Linked DNA regions of Homo sapiens. The protein of the gene in region 3 purifies or fractionates together with the protein of the main gene of each other region. This does not show direct contact. Each region holds a gene or a part of one and is shown on either strand. Other genes may lie near its edges.

What was found.
Region 1: the proteins of KLK12 (region 3) and ATP7A purify together in Homo sapiens (affinity purification with mass spectrometry; one large-scale study listed by BioGRID and IntAct). This does not show direct contact.
Region 2: the proteins of KLK12 (region 3) and MAP1A purify together in Homo sapiens (affinity purification with mass spectrometry; one large-scale study listed by BioGRID and IntAct). This does not show direct contact.
Region 4: the proteins of KLK12 (region 3) and TRO purify together in Homo sapiens (affinity purification with mass spectrometry; one large-scale study listed by BioGRID and IntAct). This does not show direct contact.
Region 5: the proteins of KLK12 (region 3) and TUBA8 purify together in Homo sapiens (affinity purification with mass spectrometry; one large-scale study listed by BioGRID and IntAct). This does not show direct contact.

Annotation. Positions count from the first base shown.
Region 1 is NC_000023.11:78,043,144-78,047,660, reverse strand, and holds part of ATP7A (copper-transporting ATPase 1), read right to left. Parts: intron 4,345-4,517; coding exon 4,227-4,344; intron 2,192-4,226; coding exon 2,089-2,191; intron 1,368-2,088; coding exon 1,091-1,367; 3' UTR 1-1,090. UniProt on the Homo sapiens protein: ATP-driven copper (Cu(+)) ion pump that plays an important role in intracellular copper ion homeostasis.
Region 2 is NC_000015.10:43,526,826-43,530,094, reverse strand, and holds part of MAP1A (microtubule-associated protein 1A), read right to left. Parts: coding exon 587-3,269; intron 446-586; coding exon 225-445; intron 27-224; coding exon 1-26. UniProt on the Homo sapiens protein: Structural protein involved in the filamentous cross-bridging between microtubules and other skeletal elements.
Region 3 is NC_000019.10:51,031,426-51,036,713, reverse strand, and holds the start of KLK12 (kallikrein-12 isoform 2 precursor), read left to right. Parts: upstream 1-1,711; 5' UTR 1,712-1,908; exon of another isoform or gene 1,909-1,919; intron 1,920-2,073; 5' UTR 2,074-2,092; coding exon 2,093-2,129; exon of another isoform or gene 2,130-2,289; intron 2,290-2,574; coding exon 2,575-2,734; intron 2,735-4,578; coding exon 4,579-4,838; intron 4,839-5,288.
Region 4 is NC_000023.11:54,927,082-54,931,598, reverse strand, and holds the end of TRO (trophinin), read right to left. Parts: coding exon 4,494-4,517; intron 4,295-4,493; exon of another isoform or gene 4,164-4,294; intron 3,933-4,163; coding exon 3,818-3,932; intron 2,997-3,817; coding exon 579-2,996; 3' UTR 568-578; intron 396-567; coding exon of another isoform or gene 261-395; 3' UTR 168-260; downstream 1-167. UniProt on the Homo sapiens protein: Could be involved with bystin and tastin in a cell adhesion molecule complex that mediates an initial attachment of the blastocyst to uterine epithelial cells at the time of the embryo implantation. Directly responsible for homophilic cell adhesion.
Region 5 is NC_000022.11:18,108,804-18,114,025, reverse strand, and holds the start of TUBA8 (tubulin alpha-8 chain), read right to left. Parts: upstream 3,218-5,222; 5' UTR 3,161-3,217; coding exon 3,158-3,160; intron 1-3,157.

The DNA.
Region 1 (4,517 bases), on a different chromosome or scaffold from region 3:
GTAGGCAGAGGTTGCAGTGAGCCAAGATGGTGCCACTGCACTCCAGCCTGGGCTGCAAAACAAGACTCTGTCTCAACAACAACAACAACAACAACAACAACAACAAACAAATTTAGTGAATCCAGGTAATTTTATATGACCTGTATATGTATAATAGTTTTAATCTTTGAAAATTTTTTGAGCAGAAAAGGCTCATAATGTTAAGTTTCCAGACTGAGATCAGCAGACTACATGAAGAATAACTTAGAGTCCAACTTGGCAGGAGTGAACTGAAACTGAGCACAGAGCTAGGAAACTTGAAGGAATAATTTGATATACTTTTTACAACAGTGGAAAGATGGGAGGCAGGGAACCCTACAGACCTTTAAGGTCTTTTGAGCTACAAAATTTAAAAAGGAGCAAAATATTAGAACAGTTGTCAGTTATTTTTAATCAATGAAAAACCACCTAAACTTGGTTAGCTCGAAAGAAAATAACAAAAGAAGACATATTGGAGCATCTAAAAAAGCACCTGCAAGGACAAGGATGCAGGGAGAATGGGGGAAAGAAAGCCTGCAATAAATAAGGCACATCTATTTTTAAACAGTTTCAACTGTTTCCCTTCTAAAACTAGATGTTTTATACACAGTGCTTTGAAAGTCATTGCTCCCCAGTGGGGCAGGGATACAGGCTTGAGAGTATCTTCAATATTTTGAGTTCAAAAGCATGAATATCTTCATGCTCTCAAATCTTCAAATTTTTCATTTTCTTCTTCTTGGGCCTTTTTTTTTTTGGTCAAATAAAAAAAAAATCACTTTAGCAGCAGTTCAGCAATCTCTAATTGTAGGGCTTGTTGTAAACCTCACTGCTCTACCTTATCTGTTGTTAGTGAAAACAAAAATATACTGGAAATTCAGTTTAAATAAAGCTAGGTTCAGAGCTGATGCCTTGAAAAAGATATTTTTGCCAACAGATAAACGCAACTCAAATAGAATCCCTAATATAAGAGCATGAGAAAAATCCTTCTACAATATTTTGAAAAGTGAAGGTAACATCATGAATGCTGTGTCAGTGCATGACAAGTTAAACTGGCAGCACTCTCCATGGCCTTTTATAATGCAGTGTCATCATCTTCCCTGAAGTCTCCCACCAGGAGTGAGTGCTTGTCAGGTTCACTGGTAACAACACTGTTTAGGGAGCGTTTATCAGACAGTAGTGAGTTTATAGAGGCTCTGCTATAATTAACAATCCGGTCCAGCAAACCCAGTTTAGGAGAATTCCTTGAGGTATCATCTATTCCAACATGAACGCTGATTTCTGAAGGACTCTTCTGTCCTATCTGGCTCCGGGCAGGCAGTTCATAACTCTCGTAAGTTGGTTTCCTGTAACTGGACATATGCAAAAGTATGCTAGTTTCAAATAACCAAAAGTAAATGAGATGCTCGCTACATGCAGAAAAGAAAGAAGATTTGCTCATCCACACTTAGTTTTGGTATGAAATGTATAAAGGTGATCACTGGTAGGAAAATAGCTTGAAACGAATTGTGTGGAGTTATATCATCAGAAACCCTACTTCTCAGAATTAGTGCACTATATTTTATCCCACTCAGTGCTTGTGGTTGCTATGCATAAAGTACACGAAGTAACAATTACATAGCTAATTATTACTGTTAGCTAATAATAATTCTTTTCTTTTTTTGAGATGGAATCTCACTCTGTTGCCTAGGCTGGAGTGCAGTGGCACGATCTCAGCTCACTGCAACCTCCACCTCCCAGGTTCAAGTGATTCTCCTGCCTCAGCCTCCCGAGTAGCTGAGATTACAGGTGTCTACCACCATGCCCAGCTAATTTTTGTATTTCTAGTAGACATAGGGTTTCACCATATTGGCCAGACTGGTCTCAAATTACTGACCTCAGGTGATCTGCCCACCTCGGCCTCCCAAAGTGCTGGGATTACAGGTGTGAGCCACCACGCCCGGCCGCTAATAATAATTCTCATTAAGAATGGTTTGGGCTTATCATTGATCAATACAAGAATAAAACCTACCAAGAATGACTAGATGATAACAGGAATACAAAATACAAATGTGAGCAAGCTATCATACTTACAGTTTAAGGAAGAGAGAAGAAAGTACTACAGAAACAGATGAAGCAGCCATTGCTGCAGATCCCATCCAGGGCTGCAAAACCAAACCAATGGGCATAAAAACTCCTAAGAAACAAGTATGGATTAGTTAGAGTAGATAATACTAAACAGATTATTAATGTGTTTCTAACATACATACAAATCATTTCTTTGTTTGATACTTCTTCAGCATTTATCCTCTTGGTGGTAGAGATTTTTGTTGTTGCCATTTTTTTCACTAACAGAGTGTTGCTGTTAACATTCTTGTACATGTCTCCCCGTGTCCATGTTTGAGAGTTTCTGTGGGGTATATACCTAGGGGTGAAACTACTGGGTCATAACATGGGCACATCTTCAACTTTACGTGGATATTCCTCAGCTGTTCTCCAAAGTGGCTGTAGTGATTCAAAATCCAACCAATAGCGTATGGGAGTTCATGTTCTACAAACTCATCCACACTTGGTTTTCACAGACATAAGAATGTTTGCTCACATGATGAGGATGAAATAGACTCATACTTTTAACTTTTTATGTGCTTCTTTATATTTTTCTACTTTTTCTATGGTGATCATATATTACTTGTATAATTATTTAAAAATCACTTGCTCCATGAATTAATCTTACTGGACTTAGATTGTTCTTTTGTTCTTTGTTCTCTCAGTATTTGTGTGTCCTTGCTGATAAACAGTTTTGTAATTGTTCTCATGTCATTTCTTGTCTTTCCTTGGCCCTCAAACCAGAGAGAACAAGAAGAAAACAATACTTATTTCTTTTATGTCATCATTACTAACTCCTACCAGGTCCCTAAGTTTAGGAGATTCTCAGATGCTTATTAAATAACTCTAAATTCTTTTTTCTCAGTTATATTGCTTTGTTCACTCTCTCTGTCATCTGGTCTCTCAACCTAAAAAAAATACCAGCTGACTATAATAGAATATTAAGTGAAGAGCAGAAAATTCTCCATAAGCTACAATCACAACTATGTAACAAGACAAAAACTGATGTAGAGTAAAAAAAAGACTAGAGGAAAATACTTGTATAATTCTTTAAAAATCATTTGCTCCATGAATTAATCTTGCAAACAGTGTTGGGTTTGGGTAGTCAGATTAAAGGTAAATCTATTTAGAAAAAAATTAATAAGCAAACAAATACATATCTCTGTGCAAATATATGCAGAAAGAGATGAAGCAATGTGGCAAAATACCATCAGTTGGTGAGTTTAGGTGAAAGGCATACAGATTTTTATTGTACCATTTTTTTCAATGTTTTTGGAGGTATGAATTTTTTTTTTTTTTTTTTTTGGAGACGGAGTTTCGCTCTTGTTGCCCAGGCTGAAGTGCGATGGCGCGATCTTGGCTCACCACAACCTCCACCTCTTGGGTTCAAGCGAGTCTACTGCCTCCGTCTCCCGAGTAGCTGGGATTACATGCATGTGCCACCACGCCCGGCTAATTTTGTATTTTTAGTAGAGACGGGGTTTCTCCATGTTGGTCAGGCTGGTCTTGAACTCCCAACCTCAGGTGATCCGCCCACCTCAGCCTCCCAAAGTGCTGGGATTACAGGTGTCAAGTTTGAAATTTTTCAAAATACAAAGTTGAAGGCTGGGAGTGGTGGCTCACAGCTGTAATCCCAACACTTTGGGAGGCCGAGGTGGGTGGATTACCTGAAGTCAGGAGTTCGAGACCAGCCTGGCCAACATGGAGAAACCCCGTCTATACTAAAAATACAAAAATTAGTTGGGCGTTGTGGCGGGCACCTATAGTCCCAGTTACTCAGGAGGCTGAGGCAGGAGAACTGCTTGAACCCAGGAGATGGAGGCTGCAGTGAGCCGAGATTGTATGACTGCACTCCAGCCTGGGCAACAGAGTGAGACTCTGTCTCAAAAAAAAAAAAAAAAAAGTTGGAGGGAAAAAAATAAATCTGTCAGAATGCTTATATATTCTTAAGCTATAACAAACATTACTGAAAATTAAAATGATTGATTTTAACATTACCTCTCACCATACCAGTAGGCTACAAACAAAAACTAAGCTCAAAACTAATAGTAAGAAGACAGGCTTCCAATATGTTAGGTCTCTAATAACTTTAGTGGAAAAAGCAGTACTAGTTAAGAGTCACATACCAGCAGCTATGGGAATTCCAACCAGATTATAAATTAGAGCAAAGACAAAATTTATCCGAATCCTCTTGACTGTCTTTCTTGATAAGTCAATACTTGCCACTACATCCAGAAGATCATTCTAAGAACAGAAATATTTGTGATATTAGTAAGAGACTCTAACTTAACCAGTAACTTTTACATTTGATACTGTGTATGTTGAAGATTACGTCTACCTTAGGGTAATATGTGAATTAATTACAAATCTCAGATAATGCTAAAACTTAGACTCAGCTTCCGAAGGTGTTTTTCAAA
Region 2 (3,269 bases), on a different chromosome or scaffold from region 3:
GTGTCATGAGTAGGGATCAGAGTCACCTAGAAGGGAGATAAGATATGTCTGATGTGAGAACATAAAGGGAAGGTAGGTGAGGGGGAAGGGGCACCTCATGGTCTCAGAAGCAGCTCTGCTGCCCTTAGAAAAGGCCCATCCTTTAATAAATAGGGACTGTGTTCCACTACTGCCTCTGAGTGAGCGTTGACCAGACTACTTCCTTGGTGTCCTTTGCTACTCACCTGAAGATTCTCCCCCCACTGGGCCTTGCCCTCCAGCAGGGCATCCAGCACAGCCCGGCTTGGCTCGCCATTGGCAGGGTCATTCCCACTGACCACATAGTAGGATGCACGCACTCGACGGAAGAAGTCAAGGTCAGCAGTCTTGCCACTGCAATGATTCGGGATGTAGGCGAGATCCACATATACAGGGGCACCAGAGCTGCCCTTGGAACTCAAGGCCACTGTAGAGACAAGCCAGGATTCATTGTAGAGGAAAAGTAGAACCCTTTTGGCAACCTTCCCCTCTGTCCCACTCCTGAAGTCTGACCAGCCCACACCCAGCCCTAACCCACACTCTCTGCCAAGTTTCATGATATACTTACTTGGTCCTGCCTTGAGTCCATTGACTAGGCCTTTGGACATGGGGCTGTGTCCATCCTTTTCCTCTGCTGGGGTGACCTGGCTTGTGGTGCTGCGTGGTCGAGGTGGGGCCCGGGATGCTCGATCTGCAGGCCCTTTACCAGGGGTGGGTGAGCGTTTTCCCCGAAGATCCAGACGCCGTGCAGGGGACGCTGGCTTGGCCTTGCCTGGGGCCCTGCGCCCTACTCGCCCCTGAACCTTTTCCTTCTCCCGTAGCCTCTCTACTCTCCCAGACTCTGAGCTGAGCCCCTCGGGGTCAGCCATGCACACATCAGGGCGGGGAGGGGATGGGCGGGGGTCTGGCTGTGGGAGAGGAGGTGGGTCATGGCCAGGCCTGGGGTGGTGAGTACCACTGACACCCCCAGCTTTGTCCACAGGTAGGAAGTCTCCATCTTCATCTGAGTCGAGGGCTGCCTCAGCTGTGATGGACGGACACTCCTCAGTTTCTGGCGGGACATCAGAATCTGACTGTGAGGAGCCTGAGTCACTGGCTGATGTAGGGGGTGTCTCATCAGTCACAGGGCATGGGCCCCCAGTGGTCCCTGGCCCCCCTACCCGGCGCCGCCCCCCTCTTCCTACTAGCCGAACTTCCTCAGTTGAGAGGTCCCTATCATCTATGGATGGGGGCAGAGGTGGGTTCAGGAAGGATGGGGAGAGCTCCCCACGATGGGGCCGAGGCTCAGTGGCACATCCCTGGGGCCCAGCTTCGACCTCAGGAGAGGCACTGCTGGGTGGGCCCCCGGAGCCCCCTGCAGGACACACTGGCTGCTCAGGGGAGAGCAATGTGTCAGGCCGGGAGCTCCTCTCAGCTCCTTCAGGCCAGGCCCCACGTTCCCAGGCAGGGCAAGCCGCAGCCTCTTCATTTTCAGCCTTGGCTGGGGCAGGGCCTGGGGGGTTAGGGCTGGTTTCAGTTGGGCCATTGGCTGCACAATCCTCAGAGGGAACCTGGAAGGGGCTTGGCTTCTCCGTGGCTGCCTCTGAGCACTCCAGGTGGCACGGCAGGATGCCATCACCCATGTCTCCAGGCAGGCTTGGAGCTGGAGCTAGGGCCAAGTCCAGTGAAGCTGGGGGTGCTGGGCTCAGAGGAGTGAGGTCCCAGAGGCTGTGGGCAGCTGGTTCCATTCCTGGGTCCAGCTCTCCAGACTCCTGTTCTGCAGCCTCAAGGCTTGGAGAGAAGCGCTCCGCCACACTTGAAATCACAGGCGTGGTAGCCTCAGAGGAGGAGCCCTCAGACAGGGCTGGTGAGGCAGGTCGTGGCAGATTGGAGAGGAGAGGGGCCCCAGGAGAACTGGGTGATGGGAGCTGGGGCAGTGAGGAATCCAGGCTGGGGGCCTTGGTCACTTCCAGGTATTCATCATGCCGGGTTCTGGTGGGGGGTCCTGGAGCCAGAGCCAGAGCTCGATCCCCAGAGAAGGCAAGGGAGCCACAGGGTGCCGAGCGGGGTTCAGCTGGAGAGGGCAGCTGTGGGGGAGCTGGCTGCAATGAGGAGAAGCCAAAGGCTGAAGCAGGGAAGTCCAGACTGGGTCGGGCAGGCCCCAGGTGTGAGTCCAAGGGAGGGCTAACATGTGCCTCAGTTTCTGGCCATAATGTGGGGGACCCCATAGGAATGGGGTGAGGAGGACTTGGGGATTGGGCCTCTTTTTCTGGCTGTTCCCGAGCCCCCTTCTCCAGTTCTGAGTCACTAGTGCTGTCATCCCAGTGACTCCGGCCTGATTCCTTGGGGGATGGGGACCTCCTATCTGGGCTGCAGCTCAGGATGTTACCATTAAGAGGGGGGCTTGGGCCTTTGCTCAGGATAGGAGCACGGGGGGGAACTGCAGGTGGGGTGAGGCTGGGCTCCATACTTGGCCCTGGCTCTGGCCTTGGGGGTACAGTGGGTCCTGCCAGGGCTGCATAGCTGAAGGTTGGAGTGTCAGACTGGAGGCTCTTGGGTGAGATAGGAGATGAAAGCTCCTTCTCTGCAGATGTGTTTCGGCCGGCAGCTGCCTCCTTGGTTGAGAGGCATGGGGGCCAATCCCCAGCTGCTCCAAGTGGAGGCTCTCTAGTGGGGCATGCAGGGCCAAGCCCAGTAAGCATCATCTGCTCATAGATGTCTGCATACTGAAAGCTTCTCTCATCAGGATAGGGTGTGGGCTCTCTCTGCTCCGGCTCAGTCTGCTCAGGCTCCGTGGTGGCATGGCTTTTGCTGGCCTCTGGTACCTTTGAGCTGTGTGAGCTTTTGTCAGGAGCCTCAGCCCTACCTTCTTCTTCCCTTTCCCCTTCAGCCTTGCGGTAGTCCTTCCCCAGGGGGGAGTATGGCCCACCTTCCAACTCAGCTGCCCCCTCCTGCACTGCAGCCACCACACTGTCATACTCGGCTGTGCCCCAAGAGAAGGGTGCAGGAGTATGGGATTCCGGGGCAGGTGTGGGGGGACCAGGAGCTGGGGAGAGGGGTGCAGGGGGGAGGGGTCTGTCCTTGGGCACCCAGGGTGGGATGTCAGCCAGCCATGAGGGAGTAGTGGGTTCATTCTTCATGTGTGGCATGAGCTTAGGGTCTGGGATAGGACTCTCTTGTCCTGGGGCTGAAGGAACCCTTTGTCCAACCATCTCAGGTGGGGAAGCTGGAGGGGAGATGATCTCAAAGGGAGAGCGGGTCAGTTTGTCCTC
Region 3 (5,288 bases):
TCTGCCCAAAGAAGGAAAGCTCTTAACAGCCAGCAGGAGGCTTTGTAGGGACCAGCGTTATCAACGCCAGTCGCGCTGACCAATGATGAGTTAAAGCAGTTAGGTCGTTTCTAAGAGCAAATCAAAAGCTAAGGTTCTGTGATTCTGAAAATGAGACACGGACAGAGACTGGAGACCCAGAGAGAAAGTGAAGGACTAAAAGACAGTCATAGGGTGGGAGTTTGCTCTCCTCTGTTTTGTTCTGGGTTTTTTTGTTTGTTTGTGCGCTCTGTCTGACCGCTTTTCTTTTTTTTCTTTTTCTTTCTTTTTTTTTTTTTTTTTTTTGAGATGGAGTCTTGCTCTGCCGCCCAGGCTGGAGTGCGGTGGCACAATCTCGGCTCACTGCAAGCTCCGCCTCCCACGTTCAAGGGATTCTCCTGCCTCAGCCTCCCGAGCAGCTGGGATTACAGGCATGCACCACCACACTCAGCTAATTTTTGTATTTTTAGTAGAGATGGGGTTTCACCATATTGACCAGGCTGGTCTTGAACTCCTGGCGTCAAGTGACTTGCCCGCCTCGGCCTCCCAAAGTGTTGGGATTACAGGCGTGAGCCACCGCGCCTGGCCCTGACTGCTTTTCTCTTGGTTTGTTTCTCAATCCCCCTTCCTCTGAGCCGAATTCCCTTTTTGTTCTCATTTTCTCTCTCTGTCCCCTCTCTCTCTCCTTCTTTCTCTCCTTCCATTCCTCCTAGATGAAGCAAAAACTCAGATAAACCAGCACAGAGGCCAGGTATGGTGGCTCACACCTGTAATCCCGGCACTTTGGGAAGCCAAGGCAGGCAGGTTGCTTGAGGCCAGGAGTTCAAGACCAGCCTGGCCCACATGGTGAAACCCCGTCTCTACTAAAAATACAAAAATTAGCCGGACATGGTGGCACGTGCCTGTAATCCCAGGTACTCAAGAGGTGGAGGTTGCAGTGAGCGGAGATCACAGCCCTGCACTCCAGCCTGGGTGACAGAGCGAGACTCCATCTCAAAACGAAAAACAAAAAACAGCACAAAGTTCCCTTGTCCTGTGACTCATTCTCTCTCTCTCTTTCTACCATTTCTCCTTCCCTGTGTCTTTTTTTTTTCTCTCTGTGGGTTTTATTTAAGCAATAGAAGTTCTTAGCAAAGAAAAACTTTATGGAATTAGATTGATCCACTTCATATGTACATATATGAACTCAGTTCAGAAACTCTCTTCTACCCCTGCCTGATCACCTATTTGGAAGTCTGTTCCTTCAACTCTTCTTCTCTTTCTGGGACTCTTTCTAGCTTGGGCTTCCTGCCCCTCCCGTCCACTCTCCTGCTTTCACAGCCTCTCCTTCCCCCTGCCCCTCCCCTGCACTGCATGGGGATGGGCCCCAGGTGTCCAAGGTCTCCCCACCCTCCTTTGTCACTGGAGTCAGGATTAGAACCCAGCTCCCTAGTCACCTTGAGTCATCAGTCCTGGGGCTGCTGACGGGCTTGCAGAGGAGAGAGGGAGTGGGGCTGGGTCTTCCCACCCTGGGTCCTTTCCTCCTTCCCCACTCCGTTTAGCTGTAAAGCTCAATTAAGTGTGATTAGCTGAGAAGAGTTTCTGCAGAATTAGAGCACGCCCCACCCCTGTCTTCGTGGTCCCCTTCCCTTAACCCGGAAACTGGATGGGCCAGGACAAAGAGAGTTAAGAGCTTTGTCAGTGGTCTGTCTGGAGCGACAGATGGAAGGAAAGGGACCGGTTGAGCAACATGACAGGTGGCTGAGGAGCCAGGTGCAGAGTGGTAGAGTTGGCTGGCGGAGTGGCCAGCACATGAGAAGACAGGCAGGTAGGTGGACGGAGAGATAGCAGCGACGAGGACAGGCCAAACAGTGACAGCCACGTAGAGGATCTGGCAGACAAAGAGACAAGGTGAGAAGGAGGTAGGCGACTGCCAATGAGGGAGTGACACACAGGGGAGCAGGTAGAGAGAGGACAAGCAGGTCATCCCCTTGGTGACCTTCAAAGAGAAGCAGAGAGGGCAGAGGTGGGGGGCACAGGGAAAGGGTGACCTCTGAGATTCCCCTTTTCCCCCAGACTTTGGAAGTGACCCACCATGGGGCTCAGCATCTTTTTGCTCCTGTGTGTTCTTGGTGAGTTCTCCCGGAGCAGGGAGAGGGCAGGACTGCGACTGGATCCCTTCACCCCCATGAGGAGGCCCCACCACCCTCCCCATCTCAGCTCTGGCCCCCAGCCTGGTGGTGAGGAGGAGAGGGGCTTTCTCTGTGCCTCCATTTACCTGCAGCTCTCAGGGTACTGCTCACCTCGGTCTCCCCTATTTTTTGATCCCTCTTCCCTTCTGTCCCTCTCTGAATCTCTGTCTCTCCATTTCCCTCCTATGTGTAAGCATCTTTCTCCCTGGGTGTCTTTGATGTTTCATGGTCTTTTTCTATCACTGGGTCTCTCTCTCTTTCTCTCTCTTTCTCGTCTCTCTTTCTCCTCTCTCTCTCCTGCCTGTTTCTCTCTCTCACTCTGTGTGTCTCTCCATCTCTGTATCTTTTCTTCCTCTCTCTGACCCATGCCCCTGTCTGTCTCCAGGGCTCAGCCAGGCAGCCACACCGAAGATTTTCAATGGCACTGAGTGTGGGCGTAACTCACAGCCGTGGCAGGTGGGGCTGTTTGAGGGCACCAGCCTGCGCTGCGGGGGTGTCCTTATTGACCACAGGTGGGTCCTCACAGCGGCTCACTGCAGCGGCAGGTAAGTCCCTTCCTGGGGTGGGCGAAGGGAGGACTATGGGAAGGCAAGCGCTGGGGGTAGGATCACAAGGGAGGGTGGTGCCCACTGGGAAGAAGCTGATCCTGCAACAAGAGAGTCTGAGGTTAGACCAGGAGTGGAACTTCCTTAGCAGTGGGCCTGGGGTGGTGCTGGGCAGGGTGAGGTATGTTGGGTGGAGGGCCGGGGAGGGTCCTGGAACCTGCCCTCCTGCCTCTCCCATTCCTGCATGTACCCTTTCTTTCCTATATGACATCTGCCACTCACCCCAGCCATTCCTTGACCCAGTCTGGGCCCGGGGCCCAGGTCTCACCCAAGCTCTTTTTCTTTTTCTTTTTTTTATTTTTTTGAGACAGGGTCTCGCTCTGTCGCCCAGGCTGCTGTGCAATGGCGTGATCACAGCTCACTGCTGTCTCTGCCTCCCAGGTTCAAGTGATTCTCCTGCCCCAGCCTCCTGAGTAGCTGGGATTACAGGCACCCGCCACCATGCCCAGCTAATTTTTGTATTTTTTGTAGAGACAGGGTTTTGCCATGTTGGCCAGGCTGGTCTCGAACTCCTGGCCTCAAATGACCTGCCCGTCTTGGCCTCCCAAAGTGCTGGGATTACAGGTGTGAGCCACTGCACCCGGCCAACATGACCCAAACTCTTTGTGCAACTTCAGAATCTATGCCTGGCACCTCTCTGGGCCTCAGTAGACTGATGTTCTGGAATTTTTTTCTTTTTCTTTCTTTTTTTTTTTTTTTGGAGACAGAGTCTTGCTCTTTCTGTCATCCAAGCTGGAGTGCAGTGATGCTATCTTGGCTCACTACAGCCTCAACCACCTGGGCTCAAGTGATCCTCACACCTCAGCCTCCCAAGGAGCTAAGACTACAGGCCTGCGCCACCACACCTGGCTAATTTTTAAATTTTTTTTGTAGAGACAGGGTTTTGCTATGTTACCCAGGCTGGTCTCAAACTCCTCAGCTCAAGCAATCTTCCTGCCTTGACCTCCCAAAGTGCTGGGATTACAGGCATGAGCCACTGTGCCTGGCCTGGAACTTTTTTTGTGAAAGGGGAGATCAGATGCAAAGAAACAGAGACTCAGGGAGAGAGAGGGCCAGCAGCAGGATGCAGAGAGGCCATTCATCAACCCACTCGTTCAATCATGAACCCACTCGTCCACGCATGAGCATGGAGGGCACATGCTCCGTGCCAGGCGGTGGGAATAAGGCAGTGAACAAGGTCCACTGATGTCCCTGCCTTCATGGGCTTCACCAGCCGAGAGAATCAGAAAGAGAGGCCTGGCGCGGTGGCTCACACCTGTAATCCCAGCACTTTGGGAGGCCGAGGCGGGCGGATCACTTGAGGTCAGGAGTTTGAGACCAGCCTGACACACATGGTGAAACCTTATCTCTACTAAAAATACAAAAATTAGCTGGGCATGGTGGCATGCTTCTGTAATCCCAGCTACTTGGGAGGCTGAGGCAGGTGAATTGCTTGAACCTGGGAGGTGGAGGTTGTAGTGAGCCAAGATGGTGCCACTGCACTCCAGCCTGGGCGACAGAGCGAGACTCGGTCTTGAAAAAAAAAAAAAAAAAAAAAAGGAGAGAGAGAGACACAGATGCAGGGACATGGTAGGAGAAACAGGGAACACCCAAGATGGAAAGAGGGTGATGGAGGTTGGGAATAAGAGCCTGTAAGAGAGACTCGGAGAATGAGAGTTGCGGGTGAGAGGACAGACAGTGAGGGGCAGAACAGTGGGGAGCGGCAGGAGCGCCTGAGTGTCCGTGGAGGGGTGCAAGGTGGGGGACTGCGTGCCTGCCACCCGCTCAGCCGTCGCCACCGGCAGCAGGTACTGGGTGCGCCTGGGGGAACACAGCCTCAGCCAGCTCGACTGGACCGAGCAGATCCGGCACAGCGGCTTCTCTGTGACCCATCCCGGCTACCTGGGAGCCTCGACGAGCCACGAGCACGACCTCCGGCTGCTGCGGCTGCGCCTGCCCGTCCGCGTAACCAGCAGCGTTCAACCCCTGCCCCTGCCCAATGACTGTGCAACCGCTGGCACCGAGTGCCACGTCTCAGGCTGGGGCATCACCAACCACCCACGGAGTAAGGGGCCCAGGGCCAGGGGTCAGGGGTCAGGATGGGTACAAGTCTGGGATGCAGGGCGAGAGGTCGAATCATGACACCTCAGAGGAAGGATGGGTAAAGGGTCAGGGTGTGGGATGGGACATCAGGATCATGGTTTGGGGTCAGAGATTATGGTGGATTGGGGTCTTGGGAGCCAAAGGGGTTAAAGGACTGGGTATGAAGTCAGGGATCAGAGGTCAGAGGTCAGAGTGTGTCAGAGGTCATCACACTGGAGCAAAAGGCATATATATATATATATGTATGTATAGGATATGGGCATTGTGGGTCATGGGTCTGGGGTTAGAGGTCACCGTAGAATTAAGGTCATGGGATCCAGAGGTTGTACAATCTGGTCAAAATCTGAGGATGGAAATTGGGATTCTATCCAAAATCACATATCTGAGATTGGAGGTCATAGCGTTTGGGGTG
Region 4 (4,517 bases), on a different chromosome or scaffold from region 3:
GCCATGCTTTCCCCAGGCCTCTATCCTGCTGAAATCATATTTGCCTTTGAGCCAAAAGCTGGAGACCCACATTCTCCAAAGAGCTATGCTGATCTCCAGCTCTTCTACGAACCCAAGATGCCACTCCACAACTACCTAAGCACATTAAAAGACAGAAAAAACTCCAATTCATTTTGCAAATTTAATGTAACTCTGATACCAAAATATGACAGCACACAGAAAGCAAACAATAAAGCAGGAACAGCAAACAGATTTTTCCATCACATGACACCCTCAGCTGATTGGCCATAACTGCCTTGACTGCTGTGTGGACAAAGATTCCAAGGATGTACTTTGGCTCCATGGGAAGGACTACTGCAATTTATTAGCGGTATCTGTAAACATGGGGAATAAATCTGAAAACAAAACAAATAGGAACACATTTTAGCACCAAATACACTGTCTTCTCATAATTCCTTAATTGCCCTCACCTTTCCACCCTGCTGTCCTGCCTTAGTGTTTCTTACAACATCTCCCAGCTCTTGTACCCATCCCTGTGGGTCCTGGCTATGGAAATATTGCAGTTACCTGAAACCTCACTAGCCATACGAGAAGCCACAGGCACCAAGACTGGCGGCTCCACTGCCAAAGCCAGCACTGGTGCTCGGTCCACCACCAAAGCCAGCACCAGTGTTTGGTCCACCGCCGAAGCCAGCTCCTGTGCTCGGTCCACCGCTGAAGCCACTGGTGCTTGGTCCACTGCAGAAGCCAACACCAGTGCTTGGTCCACCGCTGAAGCCAACAATAGAACTGGGTCCACTACTGAAGCCCGTGCTGGTGCTGGGTTCGCCAGTAAAGCCAGTGCTGGTGTTGGAACCACTGCCAAAGCCAATGATGGTACTCAGTCCTCTGTCGAAGCTGGCATTAGGCCTACTGCCAAAGCCATCGCTGGTGCTGAGGCCACCACTAAAGCCAGCACTGGTGCCAAGTGTGCTGCCGAAACTAGCATTGGTGCCCAGTCCACCACCAAAGCCATCACTAGTGACCAGTCCACCACCAAAGCCAGCACTGGTGCCCAGTCCGCCACTGAAGCCAGCACTGGTGCCCAGTCCACCACCAAAACCAGTGCTGGTGCCTGGTCCTCCACCGAAGCCAGCGCTGGTACCTAGCCCACCATCAAAGCCAGAACTTGTGCTTAGGCCACCACTGAAGCCAGCACTGGTGCCTAGGCCACCACCAAAGCCAGCACTGGTGTTCAGTCCACCACCAAATCCAGCATTGGTGCTTAACCCATTGCCAAAGCTGAAACCGGTACTGGTGCTGGGTCCATCACAAAAACTAGGGCTGGTAGCACCACTAAAGCAGGCACTGGTGCTAGGAGGGCCACCAAAGCATAGGTTAGTATTAGATGCACTGCCAAAGCAGAGGCTGGTGCTGGGAGCTCCACCAAAACAGAGGCTGGTGCCATGAGCACCACCAAAGCTGACACTGGTGCTGGGAGCAGCACCAAAGCCAATGCTGTTGCTGGGAGTACCACCGAAGTCAGCAGCGGTACTAAGTGCCCCACCGAAGCCAGCACTGGTGCTAAATGCACCGCCAAAGCCAGGGTTGGTGATTGGTGCACCACTGAAGCAAGCACTGGTGCTGACAGCACCACTGAAGCTGGCACTGGTGCTGACGGCACAGCCAAAGCTGGCATTGGTGTTGAGTGCACCACCAAAGCCAGCACTGGTGCTGGGAGAGCCACCAAAACAGACGCTGGTGCTTAGTGTACCACCAAAGTCAGTGTTGGTGCTGACAGCACCACCATAACCAGCATTGGTGTTGAGTGCACTGCCAAAGCTGACACTGGTGCCAGGAGAGCCACCAAAGCAGACACTGGTGCTTAGTGTACCGCCAAAGTCAGCACTGGTGCTCATAGCACCACCAAAACCAGTACTGGTGTTGAGCACACTGCCAAAGCTGGCACTGGTGTTGAGAGCACCACCAAAGCCAGCACCAGTGCTGGGAGAGCCATCAAAGCAGATGCTGGTACTTAGTGTACCACCAAAATTGGCACTGGTGCTGGAAGAGCCACCAAAGGAGACACTGGTGCTAAGTGTGCCTCCAAAGCCAGTGCTGGTGCAGGGAGAGCCACCGAAGCAGATACTGGTACTGAGTGTACCACCAAAGCTACCACTGGAGCTGGGAGAGCCACCAAAACAGACACTGGTGCTGAGTATGCCTCCAAAGCCAGTGCTGGTGCTAAGCGCACTACTGAAGACTGTGCTCGTTGTGGGTGCACTGCCAAAGCTGGTGCTAGTGCTGAGTACACCACTAAAGCCAGCCGTGGTGCTGAGTGTGCCTCCAAAGCCAGAGCTGGCTCCACCACTGAAAGTGGCACTGGTGCTGAGTGGGCCACTAAAACTAGAGCTGACTCCACCACTAAAGCTGGCACTGGTACAAGGCATGCCACCAAAGCTAATGCTGGCTTCACTGCTGAAACTAGTGCTGGTGCTGTGTGCACAACCAAAGCTAATGCTGGCTGCGCTGCTGAAGCTGGAGCTAGTGCTCAGTGTACCACCAAAGCTAATGCTGGCTGTATTGCTGAAGCTGGCACTGGTGCTGGGTGCAACACCAAAGGTAATGCCAGGTCCACCACTGAAGCCACCACTGGAGCTGGGTGCACCATTGAAGCTAATACTAGCACCATCGCTGAAGCCAGCCCTGGTACTAGCTCCTCTGCTGAAGTTGACGTTGGTGCTGGCATCTGCATTTTCTTGGGCTCTGGCCTCAATTTCAAATGAAAATCTGCTCCAGGCCTGAGCATCATCGCCTAACTCTTCCCTTGTTAGGCAGTCGATATCCATGTCATCCCAATTCCAGGGCCCAGCCACAGCTTCCTCTCCAATCCCCATTTGGGCTCTTGCCTCAGCCCTGGCTTCAGCCTCAGCCACAGCCACAGCTGCAGCTTGGACTTCCATCTCCACTGCCTCGCGGTACTGCACAGCCCAGTCCTTGGGGTCTTTCTTCTGCACCTGAAATGGGGATGATAATCATAATAAGAAAACAACCCTAGTAATCATGTATTAACCTACGGGCTTTGTATTAAACTAGTAGCAATACTTTTTTAAACTTCTCAGTTATTGGGGCTCTATCATGGGTCAGTTCTGAACTCCAGTTTCAGCTCTGCTGACTTACGTGCTATATGACCTTGGACAAGTTACTTAACCTCACTTAGCCTAAGTGTCTTTATAATTACAGGAAATGATAGAGCGTAAATATGTTATGAACTGAAGGGTTGTGCCCGCCCCCAAATTCGTATGTTGAATCCCTAACACCCAGTGTGATTGTACTTGGAGATAGGGCCTTTATGGAGATAATTAAGGTTAAATGAGGCCATAAGGGTGGGGTCCTGATCAACAGGATTAGTGTCCTTATAAGAAGAGACACCAGAAAGCTTGCTCTCTTCTCTCTCACACACAAAGCCATGTGAGGACACAGCAAGAAGGCAGCCATCTGCAAGCCAGGAAGAGAGCCTTCAACAGGAACTGACCCTCGTGGACCCTGACCTAGGATTCTCGCCCTCAAGAACTATGAGAAAATAAATTTGTTTTTTAATCCACCCAGTCTATGGTATTTTGTTATGGCAGCCCATGCTGATTAATACAAAGTATGAAGAATGAATGAGATGATGTAAACTATATATCTAGCAGCACCCTGGGACATAAAGGAGGCTCCACATGTTTATATATGAGCTGCAGGCTGCTCTGTACCTGCCCATCCCTGTGCATTGCCTGCCCCAGCCAAGGGTATCCCATTGCCTTAATATGCCAAGCTCGGGCAGCTCTCCTCTTACCCTGCATGCAAACTTGAGGACTTTCATCTTGCTAGTCTCGTGGTAGGAGCGCAAGCCCCAGAAGAACTCATATTCAGGTGGTCTGCTGTTAGGGACCCTCTTGTACTCCAGGTACCTTGGAAAAAGGAAATGAAACTTGTTTCTAACCAAGCAACCCTGCTGTCTAAGCACTAGACACCAGGTGGCAACCTCCTCCAAACAAATACAAACAGCCCCTGGAGAGGGATTTCTAAGACCCTCCAGCCCCAGACTCACTACCAAACACAGTTTATGGTCTTGGCCTCCAATACTGAGCCATTTCCCACTGGCCCTGTGCAAAGCAGTCCCTTGGGCTTCTCCAGGGGAGACATGTATAGGGCATGATGTCACAGGAAGGCCAAAGTATCATGCCACCTGTGAGGAGTAAGCCCAGATTCCTGTTGGGTGTGTTGTAAACAGAGGAGCCATTCTTAAGGCCCTCTGCTCTGAGCGCACCCCACTGCAAGGGCCTTGTGTTGAGTCTGGCCCAGTCCTGGAAAGGTCTGCCCATGGGAATTTTAGACAGTATCAGTTCTAGGACACAGGATGCCCATCCCTCTAAAGCTAGTATAAGAAAGGCACTGACTAAGCACTTTCTGAACCAGATCAGTATACCCAGAACACTTCAGGGCCAGACAAAGCCCCAAACACCACTTACTTCTGCTTCACAAACTCGTCTGTG
Region 5 (5,222 bases), on a different chromosome or scaffold from region 3:
TCACTGGCCCGCTATCCACCAGCTATTTCCCCCACCAAAATTATTTTTAACTTTCATCTCCCTTTGAAGGTCACTAGGAGAAAGCACATTCAACAGTGGCATTAACCCCCACCCCAAGCTCTGTATGGGCCTGACCCAAGGCTGGGGGCTCCCAATGGACTCACCAATCCAGCAGCTCTGCCCCAGCCGCTGCCCTGTGAGCCAAGGCCCCTCACTCGGAGGCATGCGCCCAGTGCTTCTCGGGAAACCTGCCTTTTGTGATGGGAGGGGAGGAGGAGGCAGCAGTGACCTGCAGCCCCTGGGAGCCCACACAGTGCTCTGAGGTCAGAATACACCTATCAACTCCACAGAGCTTGGCCATGCCTGTCTACATGGGGAGACTGCAGAAGGCTGCAGGCAGAAGGGTGTCCATTTGGCCCCCAGAACCCTCTAACTGCCCATTTTTGCAGGGAGACGGGCTCCTTCGTGCTCTCCAGTCCTAACGGAATGGAGTTAAAGAAGCCGTGTTGCAGATGTTCCCACCTCCCCATAAACCACAGAAAACTTCTCTGTGCCCTGGTATCATTGGCATGGGCTTGGCTTAGGGCACCTGGCCAGGATTCTCCATACCACTTCCCAAAAAAGGTGTCATAGTCTGAGTTCCCAGAGAGCTGCGTGCTAGAACACTGGGAATGGATGGGAATGGTCTGCTGTGGGAGTAGCCTGCCGGTCCCAGCACGGGCAGGTGGCTCAGGACAGAGGCTCTGGTGCCCAGCAGATGTAAACTCCAGCCCCTACGCAGCTTCTTACCAGCTGTGTCACTTTAGGCTCCAGGACAGAAATGCTAAAGGGTATTGGTGGTACCGTGCAGTGGGTAGCTGGGGAGAAGGGGTTGGGGGTAAGTTCACAGAGGAAAAATGCTCATCTGCCTAGCAGCTAGAGAAATGCATTTAAAAATACACTTAAGGATTAGTTACACTTTTCTTGCCCAGAGCCTACAGAAATTCCAAATCGAATTCTCCTTAACACCAAGGTCACCTCCCCCAAACCCCCACCAGGGAGGGAAGTGAAGGGGACAGGACAGCAGCCTGAAACTTAATCCTTAGAAGAAATACAGTCATTTTTGTAAGGGTGAGATTCTAGGGGTCTAGGTTTATAGATGTGTCATTTTAGCCTTTTACAAATGAGCCAAATGATATTTTAAAAGTTTCTGTGAGTGTAAAATGTTCAACAAAAAATATTAGCCATCAAGACAGTGCAACGCACACAAGTTAAATGTTCTAGATAGAACCTACTAGACAAAATTGAGTGTTTCAAAATAAATGAAAGGTGGTCGCATTTCAAAATATTTAACCATAGGTTTTCAGCTAAACACCCAAATTCTTAAGCACGTTCAAAATAAAGTTTTGCTGTTTGAATTGTTGATTTACCAGGCATTGTCAGAAACACGTCTGTGGATCACACATTCAAGCTTGTGCACAGGGCTGGGTTAAGATCCTCGACACGCCCCTGTAAACATCCTCTGGGCTCCACTCTGTACCACAATGGCATTCAGATCCAAATTAAAGCATGCAAGGGAAGCACTTGGAAAATCCTAAAACACTAGCTACCTGCTAGATATTATAAATATTAAATATCAATTCTAGAGTATGCAGCCTAGCATTTGCTTCAAAATTATGGAGGGAGGGAATAAATGAAGTGAGACAGGTCAGAAGTTGGTAATTATTGAACTTAGATGATGTATATAATCGCTAATTATACCATTTGCTCTCCGTTTGCATATGTTTGAAATTCCCTACCATAAAAAGTTTAAAAATAATGAAATCTAAGTGGAGTCTTGGAAATTTGAATTATAACCCTCTTCATTTCGCAGGTAAAACAAACACATCCAGAGAGGTTAAGTGACCTTCCTGAAGTCACACAGCTAGCTGCAGAGCCAGGAGTCAAAATTCTGAACTGGCAGCTCCGGGCCCTTTGTGTGGCCTCATACCAGGGTCCTCAGGCAGAAATAGGTTCCTGTGGCCACCCTCCCTAATATTCCCAAGTTCTTTCAGTTCCCAGGGGTGTCTGGGAGCCCGCTAGGAGGAGGGAGGGTGCTGACAAAACTGAAGCTGGAAGGCTAGAGCTCCGGGGGAGCCAGGAGGCCCTGGGCACGGGCCAAACGTAACAGGGCGGGGCGGAGGGGGTTCTCGCCTGCTTTCTGGATCACTGACACCTGGAGCAAGCCTGCCCAGGGAACCCGACCTTGGCCATGACATAGGCTTATTCTGCCCTCACTCTGCCCCCAATCTTTCCAGCCCATCTCCCTACTGCTGAAAGATCAGGGGTCCAGGAGGGATTCCTGGGATTCTGGGCTTTGGGAAAGTGGACTGGGGGCAAATGTTAACCACCAGGGGCACTGGGGGCGGAGAGGGGGACCCTAGAAAGAGGAACTGAGTGTTTGCAGCCGCCCCTCAGTAAGATCCAGGGGCGGGGGCAGGGAAGGGAGCAGCCGCGATCCCCCTAAGCCAGGGTAGGAAACAGGTCGAAGGTCCCCTGGCCTTTGGAAGCAGAGACTTCTTACTCCCAAAGTCCTTCGACTCTGACCGCTGGAAAGACTTGGGAGCTGCTGAGTGCGCCCGGAGGACCCCGCCGCGCTGGGGCTGTGCGTGCAGCAAACCCAAGCCGCTGGCCAGGCTTGCGAGAAAGACCTCCACGCGTGGGGGGACCGTGGCGCCCTAGGTCCTCTGTCACATTCCGGGCCCTGTCACATTAGGCTGGGTTCGGAGACGTGACTGCATCTGGCCCCCCAGTCGCCCCGGCCCAGACCACCCATCCAGAATCCCCGGACTCGCCCTTCTCTCCACTCTGTCCACAGGCTGCCCATCTGGGGACCCCAGAATCTCGCCCCCTTCTCCGTCGGGCTCCCCAGGGCCTCCCTCCCCCTCGTCTGCACGCAAAGCTCCCTTAGGTCCCTTTAAGGAACAACTGGCCCCTGGTCTCTATTTCCCCCATACGATAAAGGGCACCGGGTGTTCCCGCCCGAGGGTGCGGACTCCTCGACCCTGAACTGCCACCCCCAGAAGGCCTTGAGCCCTGCGGCTCCAGGAAGACGGGTCCGTGCGCCTCCGCGTAGACTCGGCTCTCGGTCCTACGCCTGCCGCGCGCCCGCAGCCCGCCTGGCCCCGGGAAGCCTCACCATCGCTGCCGCTGTCCTCGCCCGCGCACCTCTCAGCTGGGCCTGCCCGCCCCGACTGCTCCAGATACAGCCGCCTCCGCCGTTGTGACACACCGGGAGGGGGGGACGCCGGGGACAGGCGCGCCGGGCCCGCAGCTGCCCCCCGGCATCACAGTGCCGGGGAGGGGCGGGCAGGTCACAAAGGCCCCTCCCCGCCCACCCGCGGCTCAAATCTCCGGGTCCTCGGTCCCGCCTCAGCAGCCGGGGGCGCTCGCAGCGGGGACTGCGCCCGCGGGGGAGGCTGCCCTATTACCAAAGCGCACGTGTCCACGTTCCAACACCGCCGGCGAGAGCAGCCTTCGTGACCCCAGCTGCCGGAGAAAGAAATGTAAAATGCAGCCAGGCGAATCGCGCGGGTCTCCCCAAACTTCCGTTCTCCTCCGACCCGCTGGAAAGGCTCCTGACTGGGGTGCAGCTGACCGGAGCGGGCTGCAGCGGGCCCGGGTGCCAAGGTGCCGTCTCAGCTGGGCGCCCTAGGGCCGTGTGTGCTTGGCAAGCTGCAGGGCCTCTGCTCCCAAAGCCTGTGCCTCCTGCCGCCAAGGCCCGCCTGGTTGCTGGAGACGGAAATGAGATGGCATACACAGAGCTCCTGGTACAGGCAGGTGCTGAAGACTGTTCCCGTTTTTACCCTCTCCCCGGATACCTCGCACCTCCACCGGGATTTTCAAATCTCCCCCCTTGATCCCTTCCTACTTTTAAGCCCCAAACGTGTCCAAGTCACATCTCCTATGTAATCCAGAACTCATACCAGGGTTCCCCTGCCTCTGCCCAGTAGTAAGACCCGCCAGATGCTGTTGGTTGCCCCCTGCTCGGGAAGGGGTGGGCACTTGGTAAAAGCCCCTCTTCACACTTTAGATGTTGGCCACGTTGTCACCCTGCCCATCTCCCCTCACTTCCCCCCAGGTGGGTGAGGGGCTGGATGGTCTTTGTTCCTTGTTCTCACTGCTGTTTCTTGTTCTTTCCCTCCAGTGGTCAGTTCCATTCATGTTGAAAGGTGTACCCCAGCCTCTCTCTTCCACTTTCCTCAGCACCAAGCCAACGCAGGCAAATTCATAGGTTTTCCTTAAGACAATACCACTTTAGCCAGACGTGGTAACTCCCCAAGTTTCCAAGCACAGTTAGAGATCTTCCTACCCTTCTGCTCCTAAGACATGCCTGCTTGTGGCCAATAGAGAATGAGAGCAGATTTCTGCTTACCTATGCGGCAATCTGTTCTGTTGGCCACCCATTCATAAACGATAGTACATGTGTCGTAATCATCTTTGCATTTGAGAGAGTACCAAACACAGTGCTTTACCCACTGATACAAACGGTACTTAGTAAAGCATGCGTTGAATTTTTGTCTATCTTATAATGTAAGATCCTGACAATTAAGACTCAGGATTAAGCTAATTGTGCCAAGCACATGATAAATGGTCAATAAAGGATTTTGGTTATTAGTATAACTCTATGTGTATTTCTCTTCCAAACTCTCCCATAGCATATTCTATTACTTCTTCCATAGCATTTCTTTTATTTTTTATTTTTTTTGATGGAGTCTTGCTCTGTCGCCCAGGCTGGAGTGCGGTGGTGTGATCTAGGCTCACTGCAACCTCCGCCTCCCGGGTTCAAGTGATTCTCCTGCCTCAGCCTCCCGAGTAGCTGGGACTACAGGCGCGTGCCACCACGCTCGGCTAATTTTTTGTATTTTTAGTAGAGACGGGGTTTCACCGTGTTACCCAGGATGGTCTCAATCTCCTGACCTTGTGATCCACCCATCTTGGCCTCCCAAAGTGCTGGGATTACAGGCGTGAGCCATCGCGCCCAGCCCCATAGTATTTATCACTTTCTTTTTCTTTTTTTTTTTTTTTTGAGACAAAGTCTCGCTCTGTTGCCCAGGCTGGAGTGCAGTGGTGCGATCTGAGCTCACTGCAACCTCGCCTCCTGGGTTCAAGCGATTCTCCTGCCTCAGCCTCCTGAGTAGCTGGGATTACAGGCAGGCGCCACCATGCCCGGCTAATATGTATCTTTAGTAGAGACAGGGTTT